2 linked regions of the Homo sapiens genome follow. The protein of the gene in region 1 binds, or shares a complex with, the protein of each later gene. Each region holds a gene or a part of one and is shown on either strand. Other genes may lie near its edges. The genes, in order: ANKS3 and ANKS6. A codon is read from its position in the direction of its gene.

Region 1 (14,721 bases):
GAGCCGTGATCGCACCATTGCACTCCTGCCTGGGTGACAGAGCAAGACTCCGTCTCAAAAAAATAAAGAAAAAAAAAAGAAAATACAGAATTGCTTAATAAGTTGTTTCCAGCCGGGCACAGTGGTAACGTGCCTATAATCCCAGCACTTTGCGAGGCTGAGGTGGGTGGATCACCTGAGGTCAGGAGTTCAAGACCAGCCTAATATGATGAAACCCCATCTCTACTAAAATATAAAAATTAGCTGGGTATGGTGGCATCTGCCTATAATTCCCAACTACTCGGGAGGCTGAGATAGGAGAATTGCTTGAACCCAGGAGGCGGAAGTTCCAGCCTGGGCAGCAAGAGCAAAACTCCTTCTCAAAAGAAAAAAAAAAAAGTTGTTTCCAAAGGAAGGGATTAGGAAAAAGTAGTTGTGACTTATATTACCATATATTTTAATGAAGAGATGGGTTTTACTTATTCAAATTAGAACAGAATTTCTGATTATGAACAATACAGACTTATGAACAATTTGGCAAACCCCAACAGAGATAATAAACTCCTGGCTGGGCATGGTGGCTCATGCCTGTAATCCCAGCACTTTGGGAGGCCAAGGCAGGCAGATCAGGAGTTTGAGACCAGCCTGGCCAACATGGCAAAAGCCTGTGTCTACTGAAAAAGAAAAGAAAAAAAACACTGGGCATGGTGGCACGCATCTGTAACCGCAGCTACTTGGAAGGGTGAGGCGTGAGAATCGCTAGAACCCAGGAGGCGGAGGTTGCAGTGAGTGAGCCAAGATCATGCCATTACACTTCAGCTCGGGGGACAGAGTGAGACTCTGTCTCAAGAAAAATGAAACTTCCCATCCTCACTAACTTTGCAGCTCCCTGTGGCCCATTGGAGCAGCGCCCCGGCCTGTTAGGGCATTTCTCAGAAGTGATGCCCTGGCAGATACCCTTCTCCTTAATTTAACAAAACCGGCGACAGTCACTTTCTTTCAGTTTGCCGTAAGGATTAGTAAATGAGTCCATTACTGAACACACTATCTTAATCTTGGTGTTTGATCACAGAAAAGTACGAAGATCTGAGCTCTTCTGACGAGTCCTGCCCTGCTCCTCAGAGACAGAGGCCTTGCCGGAAGAAGGGTGTCAGCATCCACGAGGGACCGCGAGCCCTGGCCAGGATCACAGGCATTGGCCTGGGCGGCAGAGCCCCACGGCCTCGCTATGGTGAGTGGCCCGCGTTTCCCGAGGGCTCTTTCTCATTGCATACCAGGATTTTGTGTTGGCAAGAATGGAATAGCTCTTAGGCTCCTGAAATGTGGGTCGCTGGACCTCAGGTGGCAGCGGGACAGGTGGCCCAGCTTTCATGCTCAGGGAGACTCAGGATTGAGTCCTGTGATGGAAATGCATTGGTCACGGACTAGCTCTTGTTTTTTGCTTTATCTCCTGGAGTTTCCTTTTCGTTGGTTAAATTTAGGAATAGAACTTTCTCTCCTGCAGCAGAAATGTAGCTAAGGTCAGATTTCATTCATCACATAGGTGGGTTGGCTCATACAGGGAGGAGGCAAAGCGTGAAGTTCACTTCCCTGCCCTGCCCATACCAGCTGGGTCGGGTGCGCTGCTGGGGGCAGGAGGCCAAGAAAACAGGCCCTGCTGTTTTCTCAGGGCGATGAAGTTGTACTCAGACCCTCCTGAGAGAGGGCCCGCTTGTTGACTTGCTGGTGAAGAATCCTAGCCTTTGGGTTTTCCAGTCTCGTTCATTCTCAGATTCCCAGCCCCAGGGTGTTGAGCGTTTTGCTCTTGGGGAGTGCTGGGGTTTCTTTTTAGGGGAGTTGGGTTTGGTGCCTACTCTCTATTGCTGTGGTCTGTCCCAGAGCTCAGCTGGAGGTGTGAGTTATGTCTTCCTTTGATGGCTGTCACCCACTCATAGCCAGGCCAAGGCTGCTGGTCTCACAGGCCTGGTGGCTGGTCCTTCTCGGGAGCAAGGCCTCTTTGAGGCCAGGACTTGGAAGAGTGAGAGTAGACAGTGTTTCAGCCAGGGGTCCACCAGTAATTGAATTCCCTTCTAGACCCCAGGAACAAGCAGATGTGCAGACTTCTGTCTTCCCAAGCCTGGGTGCTGGGTTGGGAACTGGAGACCCACCTTCTCCCATCATCCTGGGAAGGGTGAGCTGACTGGGCCACTGGGAAGGCCTCTCTCGAGCTGCTGGCCAGCCCCACCACAGCATGAGGGCCCGCCCGTGTCCCGTCCGCTGAGCTGTGAGCACTGGCTCTGGGACACCGGGCTGGTCGTTCTGAGTGGCAGAGTCTCTTCCTTCCAAAAGGTCCCTGCCACCTGCTACAGCCTGAGGTGTGGTGGGGACAGGAAGGAAGCTGTCATCCTGGGGCTGAGTTGGTAATTAATCTATATAGCTGTACAACAAATGCTTTAACAAAATCATACATGTCTGAAGCCGCTTGTGTGCGGTTCTTTGTATGTATCCACAGAGAAGTAATCATGGTGGTGGTCTCAGGTGTGGTATTTCAGGGGATTTTTGTTTTCTCATACCTTGTGAAATTTAAATTTTCTATAAGTGCATATATTTTATTTGCCAGTAATTAAGAAATTTGGGGCCGGGCGCAGTGGCTCACGCCTGTAATCCCAGCACTTTGGGAGGCCGAGGCAGGTGGATCAAGAGATCCAGACCATCCTGGCCAACATGGTGAAATCCCATCTTTACTAAAAATGCAAAAATTAGCTGGGCATGGTAGTACGTGCCTATAATCCCAGCTACTCGGGAGGCTGAGGCAGGAGAATCGGTTGAACCCGGGAGGCGGAGGTTGCAGTGAGCCGAGATTGTGCCACTGCACTCCAGTCTGGTGACAGAGCAAGACTCCGTCTCAAAAAAAAAAAAAAAAAATTGGGGGGGCCAGGTGCAGTGGCTTATACCTGTAATCCCAGCACTTTGGAAGGCTGAGGTAGGAAGATTGCTTGGGCTCAGGAGTTGTGAGACCAGCCTGGGCAATGTAGCAAGACCCTATCTCTACAAAAAATTTTGAAAATTAGCCAGATATGGTGGCCCATGCCTGTAGCCCCAGTTACATGAGAGGCTGAGGTGGAAGGATTGCTTGAGCCCAGGAGGTCAAGGCTGTAGTGACCCATGATGGTGCCATTGCATTCCAGTCTGGATAACACAGCAAGACCCTGTCTCAAAAACAGTTTAGGGGGCAATGATAAATAGCATGTGCTGATTAGAAAAACTTCTCCATAACTAGGAAAATACGTAAAGAGGAAAGTAAGTTCCCCATGGTCCCATCAACCAGTCCTTTGGGTTCTTTTTTGAGACAGGGTTTCACTGTAGCCCAGGCTGGAGTGCAGTGGCACGATCATAGCTCACTGAAGGCTCCAGTTCCTGAGCTCAAGCGATCCTCCTGTCTCAGCCTCCCAAGTAGCTGAGATTACAGACATGTGCCACCGTGACTGGTCAAGTCAGTCTTTTTATGTAAAGGGGCAAAACTGGAGTGAAATTGCCTGGTATACATGCCCCTTTTTCTGCTTGGTTTTAGAGGCAGGTAGAGTTAGGTAATTTCATATTATTGTTGTTAATTTTTACCTCAAGGCCTTTTTCCTTCCTGCTCAGCCAGGTCTCTTTTTCGCCGGGGTTGACTGACCAGAGGAGGCCCGCTAAGCGCCTGTGGTTAAAGGTCACAGGGACATAAAGACACGTGGTCGATGGGTGTCTGTGTGAGGTCATTAGCTACCTCCTGCTAAAAGGAACACTCATGGTATAGTTTTCTCTGGTCAGGCATCTGTAAATACAGCTGACCATTTGCTACGTTTTCCCCTTGGAAAAGAAATGGAGAGGGCCCAGGCTTGACCTGGCTGCCAGCCCTCGCCCCACCAGGCACTTGCTTGGGCCACTGACTGACCCTCAGAGCATCTTTTCCACCCACACACCACAGATAGAGCCATGCCAGGTCGCAGGGGCAAGTAGGTGAGGTCATGACTGGGAAGTCACCTGCCTCCATCCTGGGCCTCGGCCTCTGAGGAGGTTTCACTTTGGAGTTCCCTGGGCTTATGGGCCCCATTCTGTACACAGAGCAGGCTCCTCCCCGTGGCTATGTCACCTTCAACAGCAGTGGCGAGAACCCCCTGGAAGAAGAGGGCCTCTGCTGCCGGGATGTCACCTCCCCCATCAATGAGCGGGATGTGGAGAGCAGCAGCAGCAGCAGCAGTCGGGGTACGTGCACCCCCACCCATCCGGCCCGTGGCTCAGGCAGGTCCTGGAGCTCCTGTGTGCCCATCCCCACTTATCCCCTGGGCCTGGCGCTGGACACAGCCATCCAGCAGAGGACAGGAAAGGGGTAGGTGTGGACGGCCCTGGTTCTTGTGAGGAATGGGAGAAGCTTCTGGTCCAGCATCCCCGTGCGGCTTAAGGGAGCCGTTCCACAGCAACAGGTTTAGCTCCTTGCTTGGGAGCCCCTGAGGCTTTCAGGGCAGGCCCCAGTAGGAATGTCTGTTATAACTGCACCTCCGTGCAGCAGCTGTTTCCATAGTGCCCACCGTGTGCCAAGCACTGCTCCGGGTGCTTGGGATTTATCAGTGAACAAAAAAGACAGAAGCCCTGCCCGTCTGTATAGAGGGGAGGGTTTAGGACAGGCAGGAAGTTTGAAATATAAGGAAGCAACCGCTGCAGGCCCCAAGGAGTGCCCTGGTGGAGGCGGCTCAGCCCGGGGCACGCCCATGCGCAGCACCTCGGTGAGGGCTGCAGGCGGACGCCCTGTCTTCCCGCCCTCAGAGGAACATGCTTTCTGTGCCAACCTGGGGCCCGTCCAGAGCAGCAGCAGCAGCGAGGGCCTGGCCAGAGCCCAGGGGCTCAGCAGCGAAGCTTCTGTGGAGAGCAACGAGGTACGGATTCTTTCTTTCTTGGTCTCCCATAGCCGGTCCCTGGCTGGGATGCCTGACATCCCCCAGTTACTTTAAGATGAGCATGTATGTAAGAAGCAGCTGCTGCACGTGTGTGCTGCACTGGGACGTGCTGTGTCCAGGGTCTGGCTTCTCAGACGACAGCGAACGCACCGGAAGCCCCTGTGTGGCGGGTGGGGGGTTTCACGAAGCCTCTCAAGCCCCTGTGTGGCGGGTGGGGGTTTCACCAAGGCTCTCAAGTTAGCCCGCGCACTCTTTCAGATGCACGCCTCTCACTGCAGGACTCGGATCATGCCTGTAAAAGCTCAGCTCGCAAACAAGCTAAAAGTTACATGAAGACCAAGAATCCTGACAGCCAGTGGCCTCCCCGCGCTGCAACTGACAGGGAAGGCTTTCTCGCTGAGTCCAGCCCCCAGACTCAGAGGGCCCCCTACTCAGGACCCCAGGTAAGACCGCTTGTGAAACTGGAGGTTACACTCAGAGACGGCACTTTTTGTGACTTAGGAGGCATGTGTTGTGTATATGACGTGCCAGGCGCTGCTAGGAGAACAGAATGGCGGTGGCATCCCCATGGCCTGTTAGGCTCCACAGGCTCACAGCCGGCTCCATGGCTGGCAGCCCCGCTGCAGCGCTTCTACTCTGTTCCTCTCCACGGAAAGGACCTGTCTCCCTGCTTTCCATACTGGAGTTGGCCTCCCTGAGCCTGGGGAGAAGAAAAGCACACTTGACCTCAGAGCTGCCTGCAGGAGTCTGACAAGATGTGGTTGAAGCAGAGACAGGAACTACACACAGTGTGTGCTTGGTGATGGTTACAGCTGCCACCATCCTCCTCCTTTCTGTGGTCCCTCTGACCACACATTACCTTAGGGATCAGAGGTGTGACTCACAGCTCAGCTGTCTCACCTGTGTCTGCTGAGTTCTCCTACCCTGTGTGGGCAGAAGAGGCACGGAGAGGAGAGGCAGAGGGAAGCTCTGGTTGGTTATTTGGTTTGTTTGTTCGAGACGGAGTCTCGCACTGTCATCTGGGCTGGAGTGCAGTGGCGCGATCTCGGCTCACTGCAACCTCCTCCTCCTGGGTTCAAGCGATTCTCCTGCCTCAGCCTCCCAAGTAGCTGGGATTACAGGCACCCGCCACCATGCCCATCTAATTTTTTGTATTTTTAGTAGAGACGGGATTTCACTATGTTGGCCAGGCTGGTCTCAAATTCCTGACATCGTGATCCGCCCGCCTCGACCTCCCAAAGTGCTGGGATTACAGGCGTGAGCCACCACACCTGGCCTGGTGCCATGCCCGGCCTGGCTGGTTATTTGTTAAAGCACTGGCTTTGCTGTTCAGTAGAGCCTTGGATTTGCCGGCTTCTCCCTGCAGCCCCTGGCTCAGTGAGCAGGCACACGTCTCGGTCCCTTCAACATACGTTGAGTGGAGTCTGGTCAGGGTAGTGTCCTAAGTATGTTTCTTTCAGAAAATAGCTTGAAGAAAATGTCAGAGTAACATTTGTTTGTCCATTAAAAGCAATAAACTCTCAAAAGTAGGATTTCTGGAGTTGAAAAGTAAATGAAATGAAAATATCACTAGACGAGCTCACAGCAGAATTGAGCAGGCAGAAGAGTCAGACAACTTGTGAACACAGGTCACCTGAGATCATCTCGCTTGAGGAACAGAAAGAATGAGTAAAAAAAATTAACAGAAATCTGTGATCCCCTCAAGCACACCGACACCACCCCATACAGTGGCATTCCAGAAGGAGAGCAGAAACGATGGGTGAGAAACAGCCTGACCATCTCAGTGGATCAGAAACACGGATCTTACATCCAGGGAGCTCGGTGAACTCCAGACAGGTGAACTCGGAGAAGAGCTGCGCTTAGACAAGTGGAAATCAGAACATCCGACACTGAGACTCTAGAATTAGAGGGCAGCGCTCTCCGCCTACAAAGCATTGTCGAGATCAGCAGCTCCATGGTCCCTTCACAGAACTGAGCATGTGTGGGAGGAGGAGGCCAGTTTCTGGTGATGAACATACATTGTCCCCACGTGGCCGACCATAGTGTGAGGACTCACCTGCCTGCAACATCCTGCCCTGCCTGAGCCACCAGAGTAGGAGGGGACAGCCTGGGCGCCACACACAAGGCACTGTCTTGGTTCTGAGCCTGGGGAAGTGGTGGGGCTCCGAGTGGAGGAAAACGTCTCTGCTTCGTCGTCAGCCACTACCTCCCCCAACCTGTCCCCTGTGCCTGCCAGGACCTTGCCGCACTGCTGGAGCAGATCGGGTGTCTGAAGTACCTGCAGGTGTTTGAGGAGCAGGACGTGGACCTCCGCATCTTTCTGACCCTCACTGAGAGCGACCTGAAGGAAATTGGCATCACGTGCGTCCAGAAGGGCCGCTCTGGCCCTCAGCCCGGGGTTGGGGCAAACTCCCACTCATGTAAGCGCTCTTGGGACGCTGAGGCATATCCTGGTCACATTCCCCCCGCAGGCTGTTTGGGCCCAAGAGGAAGATGACGTCCGCCATTGCCCGCTGGCACAGCAGTGCCCGCCCACCCGGGGATGCCCTGGAGCTGGCCTACGCCGACCGGCTGGAGGCTGAGATGCAGGAGCTCGCCATCCAGCTGCACAAGGTGAGTGGCTGGGTGGGGGATGGGGGGGCAGGGTGACACCCGTGAGTTGGCTCCATCTCTGACAGAAAAGGTGGGTGCTGTGTGGAGGGGTCAGGTGGATGCAGTGGGGAGAGGGCCCCACACACAGGACAGGGCCGTGGCCAAGGGTCTGGCTTGACCGGCCACCTCCCAGCCTCCCCGCGCCCCCCACCCCCCTGCAGCGCTGCGAGGAGGTAGAGGCCACGCGGGGCCAGGTGTGTCAGGAGCAGGAGCTGCGCGCCGTGGTGGAGAGCTGCCTGCTGGAGCAGGACCGCGCCCGCGAGGACCTCCAGGCCCGGCTGCGGGAGACGTGGGCCCTGGCCCGGGATGCTGCCCTCGTCCTGGACCAGCTGCGGTGAGTGGCTCTGAGCTGCCCTGGGCTGGGTCTCCAGTGGTCAGCCACCTGGCCCCTGGGCCCCCACACATCCTTTCCTCCTGATTTTGTAACTGAGGGGTGGATTTCAGGGTCTGGAGCCACCCCACCCCCATTTCATCAGGCCCTTCCTTCCTGCAGGCAGACCCAGGCAGGAGTTGGGTCCGGGAATCTGCACCGGTCGCCCTCCTGCTCTTTAGTGCAGCCTCATGGGGCACTGGCCCAGCCCATGAGGGCCAGCTGCAAGGACAGGGCTGAGCCCCTCCCTCCCCTAGAAGGTCTGAGGTGGGGGCTCTGCAGCGGCCAGGCCTCTGCTCTCACCAATATTTGTTTCTGTGTCTGGCAGAGCCTGTCAAGCTGAGCTGTCATCTCGAGTGAGGCAGGACCAGCCCCCTGGTGCAGCCACTCTGGGCCTAGCCGTCCCCCCAGCTGGTAAGAGCAGTGGCCTGACTCCGCACTGGGCAGAGGGGAAGGTGGGGGAGCCCTGAAGCCAGGTTTGACCCAGTGGGCTTGGCCTGGTTCTCCGGCCGGCAGCCACTCTCCCAGGTCCCTGTGTGCACATGATCCCAGAGTCCAAGGAAAAGAGGGGGCCCTGGGGACCCAAGCCCACTTCCTCACCTGTGACAGGAAAACTGCCTATCCCCCAGGGGTAGGAGGTACTCGAGAAAGGCCCTGTGCCTTGGCTGGCTGTGCTGTGCTGAGACCGCCAGTGACTTCTGTAGCCTCCAGCCAGGGCCCAGACCCGGGTCCCCACCGGCAGAGCTTTGCCTTCTCTCGGGCTGACCCGGGCCTCGTAGTGTTTGCTCAGCCTGTGGGAGGAAGGGCACAACAGGGCTTCCCTGCCTCGGCCTTGGGAGGTTGCTTAGACACTGTCAGGCGGGTAGGGAGGTTCTGATCCAAGCAGGTTCTCCTGGTTGCATGGGCTCAGAATAAAGCAGGGCCTGTGGGGACGCAGACCCCCAGCTAACTCGGTCCCTGCACCTGCACCACAGACTCCAAGGGCTGGCAAGCGTCCCTGCAGGCCATGAGCCTCCCCGAGCTCTCGGGAGCCCTGGAGGACCGTGTCCGTGAGATGGGTGAGTCTCCGGGGACCAGACGACTGAGCGCTCCTTTTGTTTCCGAGGGAGGCAAAGGGACCCCTTTCCAGGGAAAGCGGGTTTGTGTCTCTCTACCCCAAGGCTGACCTCGGGGCTGGGGCCATAACGGGTGAGGGGCAGGTCACATCCTGCAGCTGAGACCCCGGGGCAGCACCACCCAGCCCTCCTGAGCCTGGCCGGGAGAGGCTCAAGGTCATCATTCCTCAGGGCAAGCACTGTGCTTAGTGACCCAGAGCCTGGAGAAGCTGCAGGTGCTGAACGGGAAGAAGTGGCGGGAGACCTAGCCTGCGGGCCGGTGAGTGTCTGCCAGCCTGGATCCCGCGTGGTGGGAGCAGCAGGGCCTGTCTGGGCGGCTGCAGGTGTGGGTATGCACCCACCTGTCCCCCTCCCTTCTCACCGGGGCTTTTTCTTTCAGAATCTGACGTTGGGTGATTGGTCCACCCTGAAGCTGTGTGCCAGGGAGTGAGGAGGACAGTGAGCAGGTAGCTGCCATGTGCAGCCCAGGCCCAGTGGGGGCCAGAGGATCAGGCCCCGGGAGCAGCCGGCAGACAGAGGCAAGACGGGGGCTGCGGCCCTGGCTCGGCAGCTCGGGCCAGCACTGAGGCGGGACGAGGGCCTCACCCAGAACCTCGTGGTGAGGCCCAGAGTTCATGGGCTGCCCTGGCCCATACCAGGCAGGGCCCTGGGGGGAAAGTGTATCCATATACACGCACAGGTGCCAACTGAGGTGGGACCTTAGGAATGAGGACTGGGGCACCTGGAAAATGCCATTTTTTGGAAAATAAAATTTAAGAACAGCTAGTGAAGGGCTCAGTTCTGGTCACATGACATGAGGCACTGGCCAATGCAGCAACCCTGACTGCCCTGTCCTCTGCTGTTCAGGGGTGTGTCTTTTGCTCCTGGAGCCCAGACAACTCAAGATAAGGCTTTGAGAGCCAAGAACATCCCCAGCCCGCCGTAGCACAGGGCCTCCCCCGGGACATGCTGCTCTCACACCGAGCTCTGAGATGGAGCTGGGCACACTGCCTCCCTCACCGGGCCAGGCATGGGCTGTGCAAATTTTCTGACGATGCCGCTGGAGTCTTTCCAGATGTGGGGCTGTAGGAGACCACGAGGGATGGCTCTGCTGCTGTCCTTCTGCACAGTAAGCCTGCACTTCTACACCATCCCCTGGAGCTGCTTGCAGACAGTGGGGAATGGTGGGTTTGCAAAGCAAAGCAGGTCAGCCCAGGTGCAGCCAGGGCCACCAGGATCAGGAAGGGGAGCCTGCCCTGAAGGTCTCGGCCCAGACGCCCCAACCTGGCTGATGGGCACAGCATTCATGCTGGGAGTGCCCCCAGTAAACACTGGGGAACAAACGTGCCCCTGGCTGGGGCAGCTCCTCCCTCCCCCACCTAGGGCAGGGGGCCTGAGCTGGTTCCATCCAGAACCAAAACAAACACACAGGGCAGCTGAGAAACACACAGAGCAGCTGCGGAGCGACTTTATTGTCTTCTCCTTCGACAGCTTCGTTGTACATAGCTGGGCCCCCGAGGCCCTGACTGTCCCTGGGAACCAAGCCACGTGGGGTGAAGCTACTTTGAAACCTCACCCACAGTTCACACGTGGTGAAAGAGAAAATCTAGCAAAGTAAATCCAACAACAACCCAAATTAACAGTATTATTAACTTCCTACCCCAAGCTGGCTCTCCCCCAGGCCCTGAACTGGCTCAGGAAGGAGGCAGGAATGAGCTGACCGAGACAAGGCATCCTCCACCCACACATCCCATCTTCTGAGTGGTCCCAGAGCTGTGCGCCACCCCTGTGGGACAATCAGGCACTCCTGGGTCTCTACCAGCTGTGATGAGACGTACAAGAGGAGGGTCTGAGCCCAGAATAAACAAGAGCATCCTGAGGCTGGAGAGGCAGGCCCAGTGTGCCCGGACCACCCTGCTCTGCCTGAGAGGATGGGCTGGGTTCCAGCTGGCCCGGCCGCCACCTAGTGACTGCTTGGGACAGTGGAGATGATGACAGGATGCCCACTCGCCCTAGGCAGTCAGAAGCGGGGTACACACAAACACTCTAGAAGCCACACTTAGCAGGAATTCCCAGTCTTCCGGCCCAGGGGAGGGTGCCACCAGCTCAGGCAGCCCTCAAGAGGAGGCCGGGAGCAACTTCTCCAGGGCCTTCTTCTGCTTCTCGGTGGCTGCAGCCAGGGCCTCAACCAGCTTCTCCTCGGGCATCATGTTGAGCACCTTGAGGGCAAAGAGGAGCTGGCACTTAGCCGTGCTCACGAAGGCGTTGCTCAGGAAGTTGGGGAAGCCTCCGACTCGGTCCTTCTGGGTGTACAGCGGGACCCGCACGAGGCCCAGCACCTGCGCAGACAGGAGGTAGGGGTTGGGGCCAGGCCTGCCACACAATGGCACCTCCAGCAGGAGGGGCCTGGAAGCTATGAGGCCAGGGTATGAGCAGCCAGCTTTGCCAAGGACTTAATGGGAGACCCACGCAGGGCCTGGCAGAAGCCAGCCAGCTCCCTCGGAGCAGTGCAGCCCCCTCCTCCCCAAGCAAGTGTGGAGGCTGACCCCATGCACTCCCCCCCCTCGTACCCAGGCCACCCCACCCCGGGGTCCGCACCCCATGCTCCCCCCGTCCACCCAACGAAGCCTGAACACCCGCAGTCCAGCCCTTCCAGACCACAAAGTACAAATCCCAAGAGCCTTCACGCCCAACATGAGGTTCCCAAGTTTTACAACCCCCGCTGTGCTCAAGTTTCCCAACTCCCCAAGCAATCCCCGCTCCTCCCCCATCCCTTCCTCCCCACCGATCCCACTCCCCCACTCCCAGGATTGGCAATGGCAGGCAGCAAGGCGGATGTAACACAGCCCTGAGGGAGCCCCAGCGCCGGCCCCCACCCCCGCCCCTCCTTTCCCGGCCTCCCAGCCCCAGACCCCTCTCCCCACCCCATTGCTGGAGACAGCGACACCCGACCCAGCCCGGCCAGGGGACCCTCAGGAGACGTGTTACCCATCGGTGCCTTCCACGGGGCCAGAGCCAAACCCCGGGGCGGGGGGCGGGGCCCGGGCGGCGGCCCCACCTCCAGGCCGTGGTCGCGCGAGTGCACCGCGCTGATCTCCACGGCGTGCAGCTGCTCCAGCGTCAGCTGCCGCGCGTACAGGTGCGCCACGACGCGGTGTGGGCCCTCGGTCAGGTGCGAGCTCAGGTAGTCGGCCTCGGTGAGGCGCAGGCAGCCCAGGCCCAGGCCCAGCACCCGGTTCAGGCCGTCCTCCAGCGACCAGAAGCGCCGGTCCACGAAGCCCCCGGGGAAGCCCAGCAGCCCGTCGAAACGCATCTGCATCTGCAAGGGAGCGCGGGTCACAGCCGCGGGGTCGACGGACGCCCCCGCCCGGGCCCGCCCGCGCCGGCACCCTCGCCCGCGCCCTCGCCCGTCCTCACCAGCACCGAGAAGCGCATGGGGATGCGGCCGAAGAGCTGCCCAGGGTTGGCGGCGTACAGCATGGCGTGGCACGAGTGGCTCCAGCCCGGCCCTAGGCGCATCGCCTCCACCCGGCTGATCTGCTTCAGCTCCGGAACCGCCGCCGTCGACATCTTGGCACTGACCCCGTCCCCGCCGCTGCCACTTAAGAGCATGCGCGAGCCCGCCCCCGCCGTGCCTCGCCAATCCGCGGGCGGCCGCGCCCCCGGGTCCGGTTCCCCCGCCAATCGCCGGCGCGCCCCGGGACCGAGCCCCTCGCAGCGCCGCGGTGCGTCGTCGAGAGGTGCTGCGGGCGGTGTGCAAAGGAGGGCGGTGCGCGTCAGCCGTCACCCAATAGTCGCACACCCTGGGCGGCGGCCCCGCCTCCGACGGGAGAGCCTAGACGACTGGTCGGTGCCGTGGTGGCTCAAGGTTGACATTGTGGGCGACGAACATCTTCCTTGGCGCCCCAAAGCGGACAGCCGAAATTCCCTGCGGTTTCTCCACCCTCGATGGCGCCGATCCCCTTGCGCCCACCCGTTTCTCCCCAGGAGGCCGACCCGGCCCGCATGGCCCCGTCCATCCGCAATGGCACCCTTGGCACGACCACACGAGCCAGAGATGCCCCGGAGCCTTGCTCCGCCAGCGCCACCGGACCCAAGCCCGGAGGGAGATGGCCTTCGCCTGCCATGCACGACAGCTGTCCCGACCTAGCCACCCTGCTGGCAGGCTCGATCCAGGACAGCACGGGGAGCAGGGCTTGGCAGGGCTTGAGTGCCCCAGTCCCCGAGTCCACGCTGGGTCAGGGCGGACGACCGGGAGCTCTGGGGCTCTGTGGACCCAGCTTGCTGGGCAGAAAGTGACTTAAATTCCGGGGCTGGACCTTTCCAGCATCCTCCAAGCCGGGCACCCTGTGCCAGGTACTGTGGGGGGAAGAGGGGTTTCCCCAATTTACGATGAGGAACTTGGAGCTCAGAGAGGGACATAACTTGCCTAAGTACAACTGGCAGTTGATGACAGAGGCAGAATCCCGATTCCACAAGGGCCTGAGGTACTTACCACTTACCTTGTGTTTGTACTGGAGATGTCTCTGGGGCTCAGAAGCATCCGAAACAGCCCAAGGCAGAGCGAGGTGCCCTGAACTCCATGATGGCAAGGCTCACCTCACCAGCAGCAGGGCCCAGGGCCACTTTCCTCCCCACCAGGGGAATGGATTTGCTGAGCACATGAACCCCCCTGCCTGCACTCACAGCATGGGTGCCCAGGGCTGGGGCACAGCCTCGGGAGAGCCGTGCAGTGAGGCCGAGCTCGCTGGCACAGAGAAGGCTGCCTTCAGTGGAGGCAGGCAGGAGAAGAGAGAGGGAGAGGGTGGGCATTGGAAACTCACCTGTTAGGTCCGTGGTGGCCTCAGATGTGGAGAATAAGGACCCAGAGAGGGCACCTCTCTCTCCTCCTGTGGCCACCAGTGGGTCAGGGGTCACATGGGACAGCTGCAAGCAGCAGGGGAAGTCCAGATTCCAGAGTGAGCGACCATGTGAGAAGGCGAGAGGGCAGCGAGGGGAAGGGTCCTCTCACCCAAAGAGGGCCCCACCCCTAGGCAGCCAAGCCCAGCCAGCGCCCAGGGCCCGTGGGACGCAGGGGCAGAGGAGGAGAGGCTCCCCTTGCTGCAGCCCCTCCCCGAGACCAGACATCAATACAAGCGCTGGCTCTTCTGGGAGGTACAGAGGGGGAGCCCATCTGGCCCATGCAAGCACCCGTCTGACACCCTGGGCACCCCTCTACCCACACTGGGATGGGGCCAGACCCAGGCAGGTCAGAGCAGCTGCAGGGCCCATGGGTGGCAGCCTTCTCGGGGCAGGGACTGATGGGCTAGAACACGGGCTTTCCCTCCACCCTCACAGTCTTCAAAGAAGGGCCATGGTGGCAGCTTGACCTGCACGCAAAGGAGCTGGGGCCCTGAGTGGTAGGCAGTGGTGTGGTGGGTGCCCTGGGGCACTGGCCACTCCCTGGGCAGGGGAGCGGGGGCTGTGCAGAGGCCTGGGGCCGGGCTCCAGCCTGCGAGCCCACAACCATGGGCAGCTAGACCTGCTCCCACCGTCCGGCCTCCACACGCCAGCCGCAGGGTGCTAGCACTGCTTCTCCGCTTGGAAGCCTGTTTTTAAAACTGACTCCCCCTTATAAAAACACTCCAGCAGCCCCTACAAGCTCTTCAGTATCTATCCAGCACCCTTCACTCCAGCCAGGGGCTCCGTCCCCAGGGGACACATCAGGCTCACT
Region 2 (15,322 bases), on another chromosome or scaffold:
CTTGTTGGAAATCTAGCATCTTTTCAACAGAGGTAAAGCCCTTGGGTTTATTGCTATTTTTAGGGGGCTTATCTGTTCACTAACAGTACCATGTTATGTCATCGGCTGCTCACCAACAAGTAGATATCTCTAGAAGATGCTTTTAATTTGTCATATTAGCTCTCTTCATAGGAGTTATTACATTCCTTTTAGAGTTTAATATGATCTATGGTAGATGTGGTATTTCAAATATTAGTGGGGAACATGTGCCTAATTCAAGTAATAATTGGGACAACTTGATAACCATTTGGAAAAAATTCAAATCAAGTCCCAACATCACACTTTACATCAAAATAAATTCCAAATGATCTGAAGATGCCACAGTAAATAAGCAAAAAAAGGAAGGAAGGAAGGAAGGGAAGGGAAGGAATTTAATTATAAAAGTATTGAATGAGAAAAACCAGAGACCATATGGAAAATATTTCTAAATGTGACTATATAAAAATTTTGAATTCTGTAAGGCTTCCAGTATAATACAAAGTCCAGAAACAAAAGGCAAGTCAGAAAGAGATATTTGCAGATGACATTTACCCAGTATGTGAATCAATAGGGAAATAAAGAGAACAAACAGAAATAAAAATGGTCAAAGGATTTAAATAGACAGTTCCCACCCAAAAGGATATAAATAGTTTATAAAAGTATGAAAATATGCTCGATCTCTCTAAAATACATACAAAATAAACCTACCCTGAAATATTTTTTCACCTATCAGACTGGCAAAAATGAAAATGGCTATTAATTCCAGTGTTGGCAAGGATGTGAAAAAACACTCTCATCCACTGTTGGTAGGAATGCAAACTAGTATAACCTTTTGGAAAGCAATTAGGCAACATTTATTAGAAATGTTAATATTAACATCTTTTTGATTTTGCAATTCCACATCTAGGAATCTATCCAACAAACATAGACTCGTAAGTGCTCAAAAGATATGCATACAAGGAAGCTTATGGCAGTATTGTATATAAAAGCAAAAAGTTGGAAACAATCCAAATTTCCATCAAGAGATTATAAAATAAAATATTGCACATCCGTACAATACCATAATATACCACAGTGCTATTTGCAAGCATGAGTTAGTTGTAGGCATTTAACATACACATGTGTTCAAGATGCATTGTAAAGAAAAGAGAAGCAAGTCGTGGAGCTATATGAATAGTATGATCCTATTTTTGTAAAATAATATATATTAACATATGAAAGGGGAAAAAATCTAAAGGAATATTTACCAAACCATTAACTATATTATATTTACTTCTGATGGGTGAGATTCTGTGGTCCTTTCACTTTTGTTCCATTTATTTGTTTTTTTTTCAACAAATATTTATTGATCACCTACCATCTGGGAGTCAGTGTGCTAGATTCTGGGGATTTGAGGTAAACAATATCCAAAGCCATTGATCTCAAGGAGTTTACATTCTATATTTCTACAACATCAGAATTCTTTAAAACAATCGTTACCTTATTAGGAAAAAAAAGACATTTAAAGTAAATATTGTACTCTTTCGAGATTATTTTACTTCTAAGCCTTCCTTATCTCCTGCCTAATCCACTCTGTCAGTCTGTGGTCCTCCTGTCCCCCTGCTCTCTCCTTCCAATATGTTTCCTCCTTTTTCCTACAACGACCTAGACCCCACCCATCATTTCTGCCCAACTTGTAGCCAAGCTCTGCCATGAAGCTGTCAGTGGCATCCTCCAAACTGTGACATCTTCCTTTGAATTGACGATGAAAACTCATAGACCCCACTGTTCTGCAGTCATGTGGGATTTCCTGGGAGCCATGAGGCCATGTTTCTATCATTCAACACACATAATGCCTAGCACACAGAAGGTATTTAGTAAATGCTGGCTGAGCCTGGTACCGTGGCACACACCTATAGTCCCAGCTACTCAGGAGGCTGAGGCAGAAAGATCACTGGAGCCCAGGAATTTGAAGCTGCAGTGCACCACGATGGTGTCTGTGAATAGCCTCTACACTCCAGCCTGGGCAATAAAGCAAGATACCATGCCTAAAAAATTCAAAATTAAGAAAAAATTTTAATTTAAAAAAGTTGGTTGAAAGGAATTGTGTTGGAAATGAGGTGCATTGCTCAGATTACCCTTTGGGAGAAACTTTTAGGGGAAACACGGTTGACTGCCAGCTCCCAGTGGCTATGCCTTTGGATCCTTTGTGGTATCCTCTGGCTACTCCCAGTCAGTGACCGAGCATGGTGTGGTACCAGAACCTGGCCACATCTGCATGATATAGGACACAACCCGTGCTTGGGAATCCCCCATCTGCCTGGCTGAGACTTTCCCTCGTCACTTCCCATTCTCCTTTCTCAAGTATCAGACCTGCATCATGGTCTGAGGGCTCCCCATCCCTTTTCCCCGACTTTCCCCTTTCCCTCTTTTTTTTTTTTTTTTTTTTGAGACGGAGTCTCACTCTGTCGCCCAGGCTGGAGTGCAGAGGTGTGATCTCTGCTCACTGCAACCTCCGCCTCCCAGGTTCCAGCGATTCTCATGCCTCAGCCTACCAAGTAGCTGGGATTAAAGGCACGCACCACCACACCTGGCTAATTTTTTTGGTATTGTAGTATAGATGGGGTTTCACCATGTTGGCCAGGCTGGTCTCAAACTCCTGACCTCAAGTGGTCCACCCATCTCGGCCTCCCAAAATGCTGGGATTACACACTTTCCCTCTTTGTCCTTTGTAGGTATTTTTCCCAGAAAACAAACAAACAAACAAACATCTAGGCATCTGATTCTTAGAGGATCCAAACCAACACAGGGACCAATGGAAAAAAAAAAAGGCTGGAAGAGAATTCATAAACAATAAGGCTATAGCTATACTTGCATAGAAAGATGTGCTGGATCTGTGCTTCACAAACTTTAATGTATGGTATGGTGAGTCACCTGGGGATCCTGTTGAAATGCTAGATCTGGTTAAGCAGGTCTGGTGTGGGCCCAAGATGCCACATTTCTAACAAGCTCCCTGGTGATACCAGTGCTGCTGGTCCAAGAACCCCAGATTGAGCAGCAAGGTGCTAGACATCGTCCATTTGTCCCTGCTGTTTCTCTTCACCCTGTTCTGTGCCCTGGAAGGCTGACTGCATGAACTATATCAGCAGGCTCCAAGACTCTAGCTTCCAGTAGGGTTTACTAATGAGGAGCACTGGCAGGAGATCAGAGGGCAGGAGGAGAGTGAGGTCAGAGGTTTTTATTCCTCTGAGGATAGCTCCCTACTGAGTTGCTGTGGGTTGGCTCTGTCCCTCTACCAAAGGCTGTAGCTCCTATCAGGTAGGTCTCTGCAATTTTTCTCTCTTGCAGAATTCCAGTACCTGCTCTCCCCTTTTCCCCTTCAGGCCTGGGATGGTAACAGCTCTGTACTATTACCAGCCCTGGAGTACTGCACCATCCCTTGTGGCTCTTAGTAAATCCTGCCTATACTTCTGTAAATGGTCCTTTAGTAAGCATTCCCCAGCTCCTCAGCCAAGTGTGCCATCTGTTTCCTGGTGGGACCCTGGCTGCTACAAGCGCTGTCCAATGCAGTATTTTTTATAAGAGCAGAAAACTGGAAACAAGCTAACTGTGCTTGTTTCTGTTTGTTTGTTTGTTTGTTTGTTTGAGAGTCTTGCTCTGTCACCCAGGCTGGAGTACAGTGGTGCAGTCTCAGCTCACTGTAACCTCTGCCTCTCAGGTTCAAGCGATTCTCGTGCCTCGGCCACCTAGGTAGCTGGGATTACAGGCATGTGCCACCACACCTGGCTATTTTTTTTTGTATTAGAGATGGGATTTCACCATGTTGGCCAGGCTGGTCTTGAACTCCTGGTCTCAAGCAATCCACCCCCCTTAACCTCCCAAAGTGCTGGGATTACAGGCATGAACCGCCATACTCGGCCTCAACTGTGCCTTATTCTAAAATGATTAAATGGGCTGGGAACAGTGGTTCATGCCTGTAATCCCAGCACTTTGGGAGGCCGAGGCGGGTGGATCACTTGAGGTCAGGAGTTCAAGACCAGCCTGGCCAACATGGCAAAACCCCGTCTCTACTAAAAATACAAAAATTAGCTTGGTGTGGTGGCGGGCATCTGTGATCCCAGCTACTCCATAGACTAAGGCAGGAGAATCGCTTGAACTCAGGAGGCAGAGGTTTCAGTGAGCCAAGATTGCACCACTGCACTCTAGCCTGGATGACAGAGTGAGACTCCATTTCAAAAAATATAAAATAGAAATAAAAATTAAATGATTAAATAAATTATGGTACGTCTGCTGAATGGTGTTTCATGCTATCATTTATTTATTTATTAAAATTTTTTTGGAGATGGAGTCTCGCTCTGTCGCTCAGGCTGGAGTGCAGTGGTGTGATCTCGGCTCACTGCAACCTCCACCTCCCAGGTTCAAGCAATTCTTCTGCCTCAGCCTCCCAAGTAGCTGGGACTACAGGCACATGCCACCATGCCTGGCTAATTTTTTTGTATTTTTAGTAGAGACAGGGTTTCACCGTGTTGCCCAGGCTGGTTTCAAACTCCTGAGCTCAGGCAATCCGACTGCCTCAGCCTCCCAAAGTGCTAGGATTGATTACAGGTATGAGCCACATCGCCGGGCCGCAATCATTTTTTTAAAATGCAGCAGTCTGTATTTACCTACATGGAAAGGTGCCCAAGACATTTGTTAATGGAAAAAGAAAAAAAAAAGCAAGATTCAAGAATAGCATGCGTAGTATGAACCCATTCATTTACAAAAAAAGTAAATTATCCATTTGTTAAGGCTTGGAATGCAAGTGACAACAATGCTGCTCAAAATAAACCTCACCAAAAAGAATGTGGGGAGGGATTTTCTAACTTAGTCTCTTTCTATCACTTGGTTTTGCTTTCTTTTGTGGTGACTTCACTCTTAGGCAGGCTGTCTTCAAGTGGTGGCAAAGTGAGCACCAGTTTGGCTGACATCCTGATAGCTGGCAACCTCAGCAGAGAGGGCCTCATTCTCAATTGCTTTAGCAAAAATCCTGGGCTGGGCTGGGCACAGTGGCTCATGCCTGTAATCCCAGCACTTTGGGAGGCTGAGGGAGGAAGATCACTTGAGGTCAGGAGTTTGAGGCCAGCCTGGACAACGTGGTGAAACCCCGTACCTACTAAAAATACAAAAATTAGCCGGGCATGGTGGTGGGTGCCTGTAATCCCAGCTACTCGGGAGGCTAACGCAGAGAATCACTTGAACCCAGGAGACAGAGGTTGCAGTTTGTGGGGTGCAATTGTGCCGCTGAACCTCAGCCTGGGAGAGAGAGTGGGACTCCGTCTCAAAAAAAAAAAAGTCCTGGGCTGAAGCCAATCAGGATATGTGCTAACCACTGAAGCACACAGACTGTGAGTAGGGAAGAAAGGCTTCCCAAAAGAAAAAGGGTGTCCAGAGGGAATATTTCATAGCAAACACTTGTTATCGTTTTTGACTGCCCAGCATCTGAACCCCCTTCCTACATTTGGGAGTGCCCTACCTTCTGAAGCAGAAACTACCTCCCGCTATTATATGAGCACATGACCCAAGTTGGGCCAGTCAGGCACTGTCACCTCAGCCTCTGAATCTGAAGCCAGGAACACCAAAAAGGGCCTGAACCAACCCCATCTTCCTACAGGGTGCAGCTGCGGCATGAGATTTGGGTCATTGTTCCTGGCTTTGGGGCCTCCAGAACTGGTTCTCAGGCTCTCATGGATCTGTGAGCTACAGAAGAACCTTGTACTAAATCCTGCAGCTTTTCCAGCACCTAAAACAGTGTCTGGAAATGGCAGGCACTCAATACATATTTGTTGAAAATGGAAAGAGAGTTGGACTCGATGTCAGAAGACCTGAGTCCTACTCACAGCTCTCCTGCAGAATAGTTGTGGAGTCTTTGGCAAGACACAACCTCTTTGTGCCTCGGTTGCCTCCTCTGCAACCTAGGGATGATCATCTGGGCCCTCCCCGGTGGATGGCAGGCGTGCAATGAAGATCAAACGTGGGTCTCCAACTTTAGCATGCATCAGAATCACCCAGAGGGCTTGTTAAAATATAGGTTGCTGAACCCACACCCAGAATTTCTGATTCAGTAGATCTTGGGTAGGGCCAGAAAAATCTGCGTTTGTAACAGTGTTGCAGCTGGTGATGGTGCTACTGCTGTGTGGGACACACTTCAAGGACCGCTGATAAAGAGAGAGAAGGTATTTCATTTTCTTTGTGACCATTGTAAATGAGGTTGTGTTCTTAATTTTGTTCTCAGCTAGAATGTTATTGGCATATCAAACTGCTATTGCTTTTTATACATTGATTTTCTGTCCTGAAACTTTACTGAATTTGTTTATCATTTCCAGGAGCCTTTTGGCAAACTCTGTAGGGTTTTCTATGTATAGATTCATACTCTCCGCAAAGACAGAGTGTTCGACTTTTTCTTTTCCTATTTGAATGCCTTTTATTTCTTTCTCTTACCTGGTTGTCTGGCTAGGACTTCCAGTACTATGTTGAATAGGAGTGGTGAGAGTCTTCTTCCAGCTTTTGCCTGTTTAATATGATGTTGGCTATGGGTTTGTCATAGATGGCTGTTATTATTTTGAGGTATGTTCCTTCAATGCCTAATCTGTTTTGAAGATTTTTATTATAAAGGGATGTTGGATTTTATTGAAGGCCTTTTCTGCATCTATTGAGATGATTATATGGTTTTTGTTTTTGATTCTGTTTATATGGTGAATCACATGTATTGATTTGCGCATGTTGAGCCAACCTTGCATTCCAGAAATAAAGCCTACTTGATCATGGTGAATTGACTTTTTGATGTGCTGCTGGATTCTGTTTGTAGTATGTCATTGAGGATTTTTGCAGCTATGTTTTTCAGGAATATTGGCCTGAAGTTTTCTTTTTTTCGTTGTGTCTCTGCAAAGGGCATGAACAGACACTTCTCAAAAGAAGACATACAGGCAGCCAACAAACATATGAAACAAATGCGCAACATCATTAATCATCAGAGAAATGCAAATCAAAACCACAATGAGATATCATCTACACCAGTCAGAATGTCAATTATTAAAAAGTCAAAAAACAATAGGTGCTGCTAAGGCTGTGGAGAAAATACACTGTTGGTGGGAATGCAAACTAGTTCAGCCACCGTGGAAAGCAGTTTGGAGATTTCTCAAAGAACTTAAAATAGAACTATTTGACCCAGCAAACCTACTACCAGGTATATACCCAAAGGAAAATAATTCATTCTATCAAAAAGACACCTGTATATTCATTGCAGTGCCATTTACAATAGCAAGGGTATGGAATCAACCTAAGTGCCCATCAACAGTAGATTGGATAAAGAACATGTGGTACAGAGCCAGATGTGATGGCTCACACCTGTAATCCTGGCACTTTGGGAGGCCACAGCAGGTGAATCACTTGAGCTCAGGACTTTGAGACCAGCCGGACAACATGGTAAAACCCTTTCTCAACCAAAAATACAAAAAATTAGCCGGGTGTGGTGGCACTTGCCTGCAGTCCTAGCTACTCGGTAGGCTGAGGTGGGAGGATTGCTTGAGCCTGGGAGGCAGAGGTTGTGGTGAGTAGAGATTGCACCATTGCACTCCAGCCTGGATGACAGAGCAAGACCCTGTCAAAAGAGAGAGAGAGAGAGAGAGAGAGAGGGAGAAAGGGAGGGAGGGAGGGAGGAAGGAAGGGGGATAGGGAGGGAGGGAGGGAAGAGAGGGAAGGAATGAAAGAAATGTGGTGCATATACACGATAGAATATGATGGAATACTACGGAATACTATGCAGCCATAAGAATGAACGAAATCATGCCCTTTGCAGCAACATGGATAAAGCTGGAGGCCATTATCCTAAGCGACCTAAAAAGAACAGAAAACCAAATACTGCATGTTCTCACTTATAAGTGGGAGCTAAACATTGAGTACACATGGACACAAAGATGGGAACAACAAACGCTGGGGATCGCTAGGCCAGGGAGGGATGGAGGGGACTCTGGGCTGAAGAACCTCTTGGTGGGTATTATGCTTACTGCCTGGGTGACGGGATCGTTGGGACCACAAGCTTCAGCGTCGCGCAATTTACCCATGTAACAATTTACCCATGTAACAAACCTGTACCCTTTAATCTATAATAATAGTTGAAATAAAAGGTGGGGGAGAGAGAGAGAACAGGAGGCGCTTTTAGCCCCAGCAGCCTGGCCCAGATGAAGGAGCGACATTAAGGGCACCGCAGGACACTGTGAGGAAACAATCCGTTCGTTCCTTAATTCAGCCGCTTCCTTATTCTAGAAGGGCAGGTTCAGTGCCAGGGGCTGCGGTGGGGTCAGCGGAGCCCGCTAGTAAAGTCAAGGCCCACGCAGCTGCGGACTCAGACCCGGGCCCAGGGCCCTGACCACAGCGTGAAGAGGGGATGGCGTGGCCGCTCCCACCTCTGCCCTGACAGGAAGTTTCTGGAGCCCCGGGACAGGGCGGCGAGAGGGCGCCGAAGAGGCAAAAGGGAACACGCGGGTCTGCGGCGGGCGCTCCTCTGAGCGTCCCTGGACTCCCGAATACGGGCACTGGAGGTGCGCAGCCCCGGCCCTAGCGCGCTCCCGGCACACAGCAGGCGCGCGGCCCTAGCCCCGGCGCGCTCCCGGCACACAGTAGGCGCGCGGCGCGGGCGGGTGGCCGGAAGGGGGCGCCTGCGGGCGGTATCCGGGGGCGGAGCCGACGCGGCCGGCGGGGCGGACGGGAGCGGGCCGCGCGTGGCGGCGGCGATGGGCGAGGGCGGGCTGCCCCCGGCCTTCCAGCTGCTGCTGCGCGCGTGTGACCAGGGCGACACGGAGACGGCGCGGCGGCTGCTGGAGCCGGGGGCGGCGGAGCCAGCCGAGCGCGGCGCGGAGCCGGAGGCGGGCGCGGAGCCGGCGGGGGCCGAGGTGGCCGGGCCCGGGGCCGCAGCGGCGGGGGCAGTCGGGGCTCCGGTGCCCGTGGATTGCTCGGACGAGGCGGGCAACACCGCACTGCAGTTCGCCGCGGCCGGGGGCCACGAACCGCTGGTGCGCTTCCTGCTGCGCCGCGGTGCCTCGGTCAACAGCCGCAACCACTACGGCTGGAGCGCGCTCATGCAGGCGGCCAGGTGAGGCGGCGGGGCCCGGGGGCCCGGGACCAGAGTGGTGCCCGGCGCTGGCCCGAGACGCGGTCCCCGGCGGCCGGATGCCCCGGGAGGTGAAGAGTTAAGGACTCCTTAGAGTTGGAATGGTAAACTTTGAGTAGTCTTTTGTAAACTTTGAGCATAGACGTGGAAACACTTTTGAATTAACATAAAATCAGATTCTTAGAAATTTTGGCCTTTCAGAATAGAATCTGGAGACAGCGAATAGAATTGTAGAGACTTAGAACCTTAGAGATTTAATTCATTTCTTATTGCAGTAAGAGTTTCCTCAGAACCTGCCTTCCCTTCCTGGCTTGGCGTTGAGGGTGCTGCGAGACCCAGGCAGAGTCCCCACCCAGGGCATTGGTGGGCAGGCCAGGCAAAGGAACGAGCTTGACCGGAAAGGTTTGAGTAGCTGTGGGGCAGGTGACCCATTTTGGAGACGTGGGGGAAGGTTTCTGGTAGAAAAGATGTTTATATCCACGTGGAGACCTGCGGATACCTGAGAATTAGCCAGGACATTACAAGTGGGCTGTGGGAAGGCATGATGGGAGGCCCATGCAAAGGCTTGGGTGCACGAGCTGGTAGGACTGGTAGAATGAGGTATGCGTAGAATGTATGAGTAGAATGATGTACTAGTCCTCCCTGGAGAGAAGGCAGATGCCAGGGAGTTGGGGGAGTGTGGGAGCTGAGAAACGCTAGCTATCCTAGGGTGCTAGGGAGTCATGGAAGGTGCTAGGGAGTCATGGAAGGTTCTAGGCAGAATGAGTGACAGGATGAGAGTTACGTTTTGGAAAAATTACTTTCCTTGAAGTGTGAGAATAGATTAGATACTCTAGGGTAAGCTAGAGTCAAAAAGGCTGGTTAGGTAGAGTTTGCTGCAGTCTGAGTGAGAGGTGATGGTGGCCTAGACCAGAATGGAGACAGCGGAGGGAGGGCACCCAGATGAATTTGTGATATATTCAGGGAGTAGATCAGCAGGAGTTGACGACTGGCCCTTGGGGAGGGGTTAAGAGAGACAGCAAGGATGGCATCTAGAGATCTGGCTTCTGTGAAGCCTGCCATGATATCTCCCTGTTCTCTGGTCCCTCCGCAGCAGAAAGGCCTCTGTGGTAGCATCCATCACACCATGTTAATGCTGACTGGCTTCCTCAGTACCCAAACCTGGCCACACATCAGAATCACCAGGATGCTTGTCTAAGTGCAGATTCCTGAGTTCCTTTTCTGGAGATTGTGATTTAGAAGGCCCAGGGCAGTGAGGGGAGTAAGAGACAGGGACTCTGTGTGAGAAGAGGCTCCCCAGTGATTCTCTTGTATGGTAGGTTTGGGAGCCACTGATGTGTTATGTGTGTCTCATCTCTGCAATCCACCAAGTGCGTGCACAGGGGCCCTGGTGAGCCCCCTGAGGAATTTACTGAGTGAGGTTTGTGACTACAGCACTGACATGCCTCAGAGTGTCTCAGAGACCCCAGATCATCAGTTTTAACCAAGTTCTGCAGGATAGTCTTGAGCCTGGGTATTTTAAAATGTGCTGTTCCTCAGTTGGTGTGACACCGACTCTATATTCAGGTAGCATCTCTGCCTGTGTTGAGTTGTGCTCCAGCTTTCTGCTGCGTAATTCATAAGAAAAGGTCAAGTTGAGGAGTAGTATATATGGAAGACTTCCAGAAGGATGTACAGTGTGTCTGTCCCTCACATCGGGGTAGGCAAATGAATGGCCTGTGTGCTGACACCTTCCAGCCTTGTGCTCTTCTTCCTTGGATCTGGATACGCCCCCAGAATCCTGCTCAAAACCACACCCCTGGCAGCCACCACGCTGGGTCTGAGCAAGCATCTATTTATCGTCCCAGCTCTCTGTGTGGATCAGGCCAGACTATTAGACACCCTGTGCCTTTGGTCTTTTGTGGGTGTTTTAGTATTAGAAATGGTGACCTTAGTGTTTTTTCCTGTTCTTTTTTTTTTTTTTTTTGAGACGGAGTCTCGCTCTGTCACCAGGCTGGAGTGCAGTGGCGTGATCTCGACTCACTGCAACCTCCGCCTCCTGGGTTCAAGCGATTCTCCTGTCTCAGCCTCCGGAGTAGCTGGGATTACAGTCACGTGCCACCACGCCCAGCTACTTTTTGTATTTTTAGTAGAGACCGGGTTTCACTGTGTTGGCCAGGCTGGTCTCAATCTCCTGATTTCGTGAAACGCCCACCTCGGCCTCCCAAAGTGCTGCGATTACAGGCGTGAGCCACCGCGCTGGGGCATGTTTTTTCATGTTCTTAAAATAATAGGTAACCTTTGGCCAGGTGCGGTGGCTCACGCCTGTAATCCCAGCACTTTGGGAGGCCGAGGCGGGCAGATCAGGAGGTCAGGAGATCGAGACCAGCCTGGCCAACATAGTGAAACCCTGTCTCTACTAAAAATACAAAAATTAGCTGGGCGTGGTGGCACGGGCATGGTGGCACGCACCTGTAGTCCCAGCTACTCGGGAGGCTGAGGCAGGAGAATCGCTTGAACCTGGGAGGCGGAGGTTGCAGTAAGCTGAGATCGCGCCACTGCACTCCAGCCTGGCGACAGAGCGAGACTCCATCTCAAAAAACCAGAACAAAACAAAACAAAAAACAACCTTTATTGAGCACTGACTTTCTGTCAAGCACTGTGCTAAGTGCTTTAAATGAATTAAGTCATTCAATCCATACAAAACCTTAGGAAGGAGGTACTATTGTCATCCTCATTTCATAAATGAGGAATTGAGGAACAGAGAAGTTAAATAACTTGCTCAAGTAACATAGCTACCAAGTGGCGAGTCAGATTCACACCTAGGGAGGTGGCTCCAGAGCCTGTGCTCCCAGCCATGAATCCTGTAACTGATAGTTTCCCTCTTGGTGTTGGTGCCTGGAAGCGGCTTGCCAAATTTGCCAGAGACTTCTCTCCAAGGGACAGGGTTGCATAGTGTTTACCTTCCTTCCCTACCCTTCATTTCCTGCCTGCCAGTGGGGCAGAGCTGGACTCTCAGCCCAGTGCTTTGAGAGGGGAAAATGTGTGCCAGCTCTTTAAACACAGGTGTTAATTGCTGAAATTCATCAGTAATCACAGCACCTGTTCAGAAAGCCCCTAGCATGCCCATCTCCGGCAGTTACCTATTAGAAACTTAGCATCCACAACATTATCTCAGCCTTGCTTGGATCCTTTTATATTTTCAGCATAGTTGAGTGCTCTCTTGGGCTACTCACTAATTCAGAAAACATTCCAAATTTCACTATTTCTGCTCTAATTCACCCCTTTTCTTCCTCCTTAAAAATTGGTTATACTGGAGCTTCGATTTTGAGTCCAGGTGCAACTTTTGACTCTATCACGTTCAAATTGAGAGGCTTTAGATTAATTGCTTTCCACTGTAATCTTCAGTTTCCTAATCTGTGAGTTTATCTCGGGGTTTATTAAGATCAAATGAGATAAAAATGTGACGCACCTTGTAATCTGCTGTTAGGGATTATGCTAGATTTTATCTCATGCTTGATAACTAAATAGTGTAATCTTTTAGAAATGTACTACAGTGGAGGATACACCAGTTCTTCAGGGATTTCCACTGCTCACCTCTGGACCTTCCCCTATGTGGTTATGCCATTTATGCATTCATTTACTTGGCTTGTTTGACCAAATTTACTGAGCTCCGATGTGGATCAGCCACTATGGTAGGGGCTGGGGAAACAATATGCGTGGAACCCTGTCCTGTCCTTGGAGAGCCTGCCACTGAATAGGAGAGACAATTAGGGAAAGAGGGCTCACGTGCAGCCAGAGGCGAGCCCGTGGAATTAGGTGCTCAGAAGAGGGGCACTGACCTAGCCTGGTTGAGGGGTGGTCTGGAAGCTGCTCAGAGTGGGTGAGATATGACTCCTGAAGCAGGACACGGTGGGGGTGTGCTGAGTAGATGAGGACAGGAGAGTCCTCTGGTGGGGTCAGGATGGTGAAGGTGTGGGGAAGGCGGGAAGGTGTGGTTTGGGAGCAGGAGGAAGTGAGGTTGGCAAAGCAGTCAGGTCTTCGGCAATCAGAAGCTGGGGAGTGACAGATTTGGGTTTGGAGAATATCATTTGGGAGTCGCATGGAGGATGGGCAGGAGGGAACGAGACTGGAGGCGGGGAGACATTGGGGTGCAGCTTTCTGCATTGAGTTGGTTTCAATTTGCCTTGTCCTTTTCCACTCTGGGAGTGGAGGTCAAGAGGCCCAGCCCCCTGCAGCTGATGGAGCTGTGTCACCAGGCTCTTGCTTCGTGGCTGAGTAGCCCCATGCTGTTCAGGTTCACATCCCAGAAGGTATTCAGCCGGAGCCTCAGACAGAGTTCAGCCCTGGCCTGGCCGCCAGCCGCCAGGAGGAGGGAGGTCTTGGGTTTAGATGAGGTGCAAAACTGGCTCCCGGGAAGGAGGGCTGAGCATCGAGAAACCCAGAAAGCTGCCTCACAGATGCAGACATGACAGTGGCTTTGTGGTCTCGAAAACCTGGAGTAGACAGCCCCTGTCTTGTCATTGTTTTCTTGTTAGTCCAGGGCCGCTTCCAGCTTGGAGATACACAGCTCCGAGCCCACCAGAGACACCACAAAACAGAACTTTTCTGCCCTCTGGTGTTAAAAGAAGGAAGAGATTTTGCTGGGAAGAGGTACCTGTTTTCCTTCTCCTGGTACTAGGAAGTTGGTGGGTGCAGATCTTTCTCTTCAGGGGCCCAGCAGTGACTTCATTGAGGAAGATCTGGCCTAGGCTGGGTCCTCAGCCGCCTGCAACAAACATTCCTGCCAGCAGGTGGCAGCAGGCCTCCAGGCCGCAATGCCCAGCCTATCTGCTGACCACAACCTTGCCACACCTCTTGGCATGGGGTGTGTGCTTTTGGGGATGGGGAGGGTAGAAATGAATCAGACATGGGCTCTGCCTGTGGGGAAATTAGAGCACAGGCAGAGAGACAGATTCCCAGGCTATAAAGCAGAATAAAATCGACTGTCTGAAATGTAGGAGGCAGCATGGTGTAAGAGAAAAAGCAAGGGCAGCGGCATTCACACAGACCTGTCCTGACCCTGATGCCACCCCTTACCAGCCGGGTAACCCTTGGCACGTTGAATAACGTAACATGAACAATTATAATACCTAACAATCGCTAACATTGATGTGATGTTTCCTGTGGCCAGGCACAGAGCCAGGTGCTTTACATGTAACTCATTTAATCCCCAACAACCCTTGAAGTAGGTACAGTTATATCCCCATTTTGCAGATCAGGAAATGAAGGCACAAAGAAATCAAAGTTCTTCCTAAAGGTCATGCAGCTGGTGGTGGGGAGAGCTGGATTTGAACCCAGGCAGGGCAGCTGCTCACCTTCATGATGATGCATCTGCATCCATGTGGCTGGCACAGTGCCTGGCGCCAGAATAAGACCTCTTATCATGAGCAGCTGTCAGGACTAATAATTCATGCCAATTAAGGATGACATAAGCTGGCCCCCGAGTGCTGTGTGTTCAGTGTCACTAATTCTCCATCTTCCTGGCAGATTTGGGCATGTGAGTGTGGCACACCTCCTGTTGGATCACGGGGCTGATGTCAATGCCCAGAACCGGCTGGGGGCCAGTGTGCTCACTGTGGCTTCTCGGGGCGGCCACCTGGGTGTGGTGAAGCTGCTCCTGGAAGCCGGTGCCTTTGTGGACCATCACCACCCTTCAGGCGAGCAACTGGGGTTGGGCGGCAGCAGGGATGAGCCCTTGGACATCACAGCCCTGATGGCTGCCATCCAGCACGGGCACGAGGCCGTGGTGCGTCTACTGATGGAGTGGGGCGCGGACCCCAACCACGCAGCCCGGACCGTGGGCTGGAGCCCGCTGATGCTGGCCGCACTCACTGGGCGGCTTGGAGTGGCCCAGCAGCTGGTGGAGAAGGGCGCCAACCCTGACCACCTCAGCGTGCTGGAGAAGACCGCCTTCGAGGTTGCACTGGACTGCAAGCACAGGGACCTTGTAGACTACCTGGACCCGCTGACCACCGTCAGGCCCAAAACAGGTCAGGCTGCATGCCCCCCGTGGCTTCACAGAGGACCCCAAATTGTGTTTATGTGGCTTAAGCTGAGGATTGCTCTACTGGAAGGACACGCAGAACTCAGAGTCCAGCCCTGCAGACCACTGAGACTGAGGAAGTGGTGTGCTTAAGTATCGGGGGGATTGCCTGTGAC

Evidence for each region.
Region 2: the proteins of ANKS3 (region 1) and ANKS6 are in contact, whole or in part, in a crystal structure (PDB 4NL9), measured with the Homo sapiens proteins. Residues at the interface, in NP_597707.1 of Homo sapiens: Lys441 (codon at 7,165), Tyr442 (codon at 7,168), Thr470 (codon at 7,252), Leu471 (codon at 7,365), Phe472 (codon at 7,368), Gly473 (codon at 7,371), Pro474 (codon at 7,374), Arg476 (codon at 7,380), Lys477 (codon at 7,383), Arg484 (codon at 7,404); in NP_775822.3 of Homo sapiens: Glu796, Gln797, Glu798, Val799, Asp800, Glu802, Ala803, Thr806, Leu807, Asp811, Glu814, Leu815.

What each region holds. Positions count from the first base shown.
Region 1 is NC_000016.10:4,691,584-4,706,304, reverse strand, and holds the end of ANKS3 (ankyrin repeat and SAM domain-containing protein 3), read left to right. Parts: intron 1-1,051; coding exon 1,052-1,210; intron 1,211-4,062; coding exon 4,063-4,203; intron 4,204-4,761; coding exon 4,762-4,871; intron 4,872-5,170; coding exon 5,171-5,335; intron 5,336-7,128; coding exon 7,129-7,253; intron 7,254-7,363; coding exon 7,364-7,505; intron 7,506-7,705; coding exon 7,706-7,878; intron 7,879-8,242; coding exon 8,243-8,328; intron 8,329-8,888; coding exon 8,889-8,972; intron 8,973-9,200; coding exon 9,201-9,277; 3' UTR 9,278-9,288; intron 9,289-9,408; 3' UTR 9,409-9,794; downstream 9,795-14,721. Other genes in the region: NUDT16L1 (tudor-interacting repair regulator protein), read right to left, coding at 11,737-12,327, 12,426-12,620. UniProt on the Homo sapiens protein: May be involved in vasopressin signaling in the kidney.
Region 2 is NC_000009.12:98,789,935-98,805,256, reverse strand, and holds the start of ANKS6 (ankyrin repeat and SAM domain-containing protein 6), read left to right. Parts: upstream 1-8,701; 5' UTR 8,702-8,765; coding exon 8,766-9,124; intron 9,125-14,650; coding exon 14,651-15,153; intron 15,154-15,322.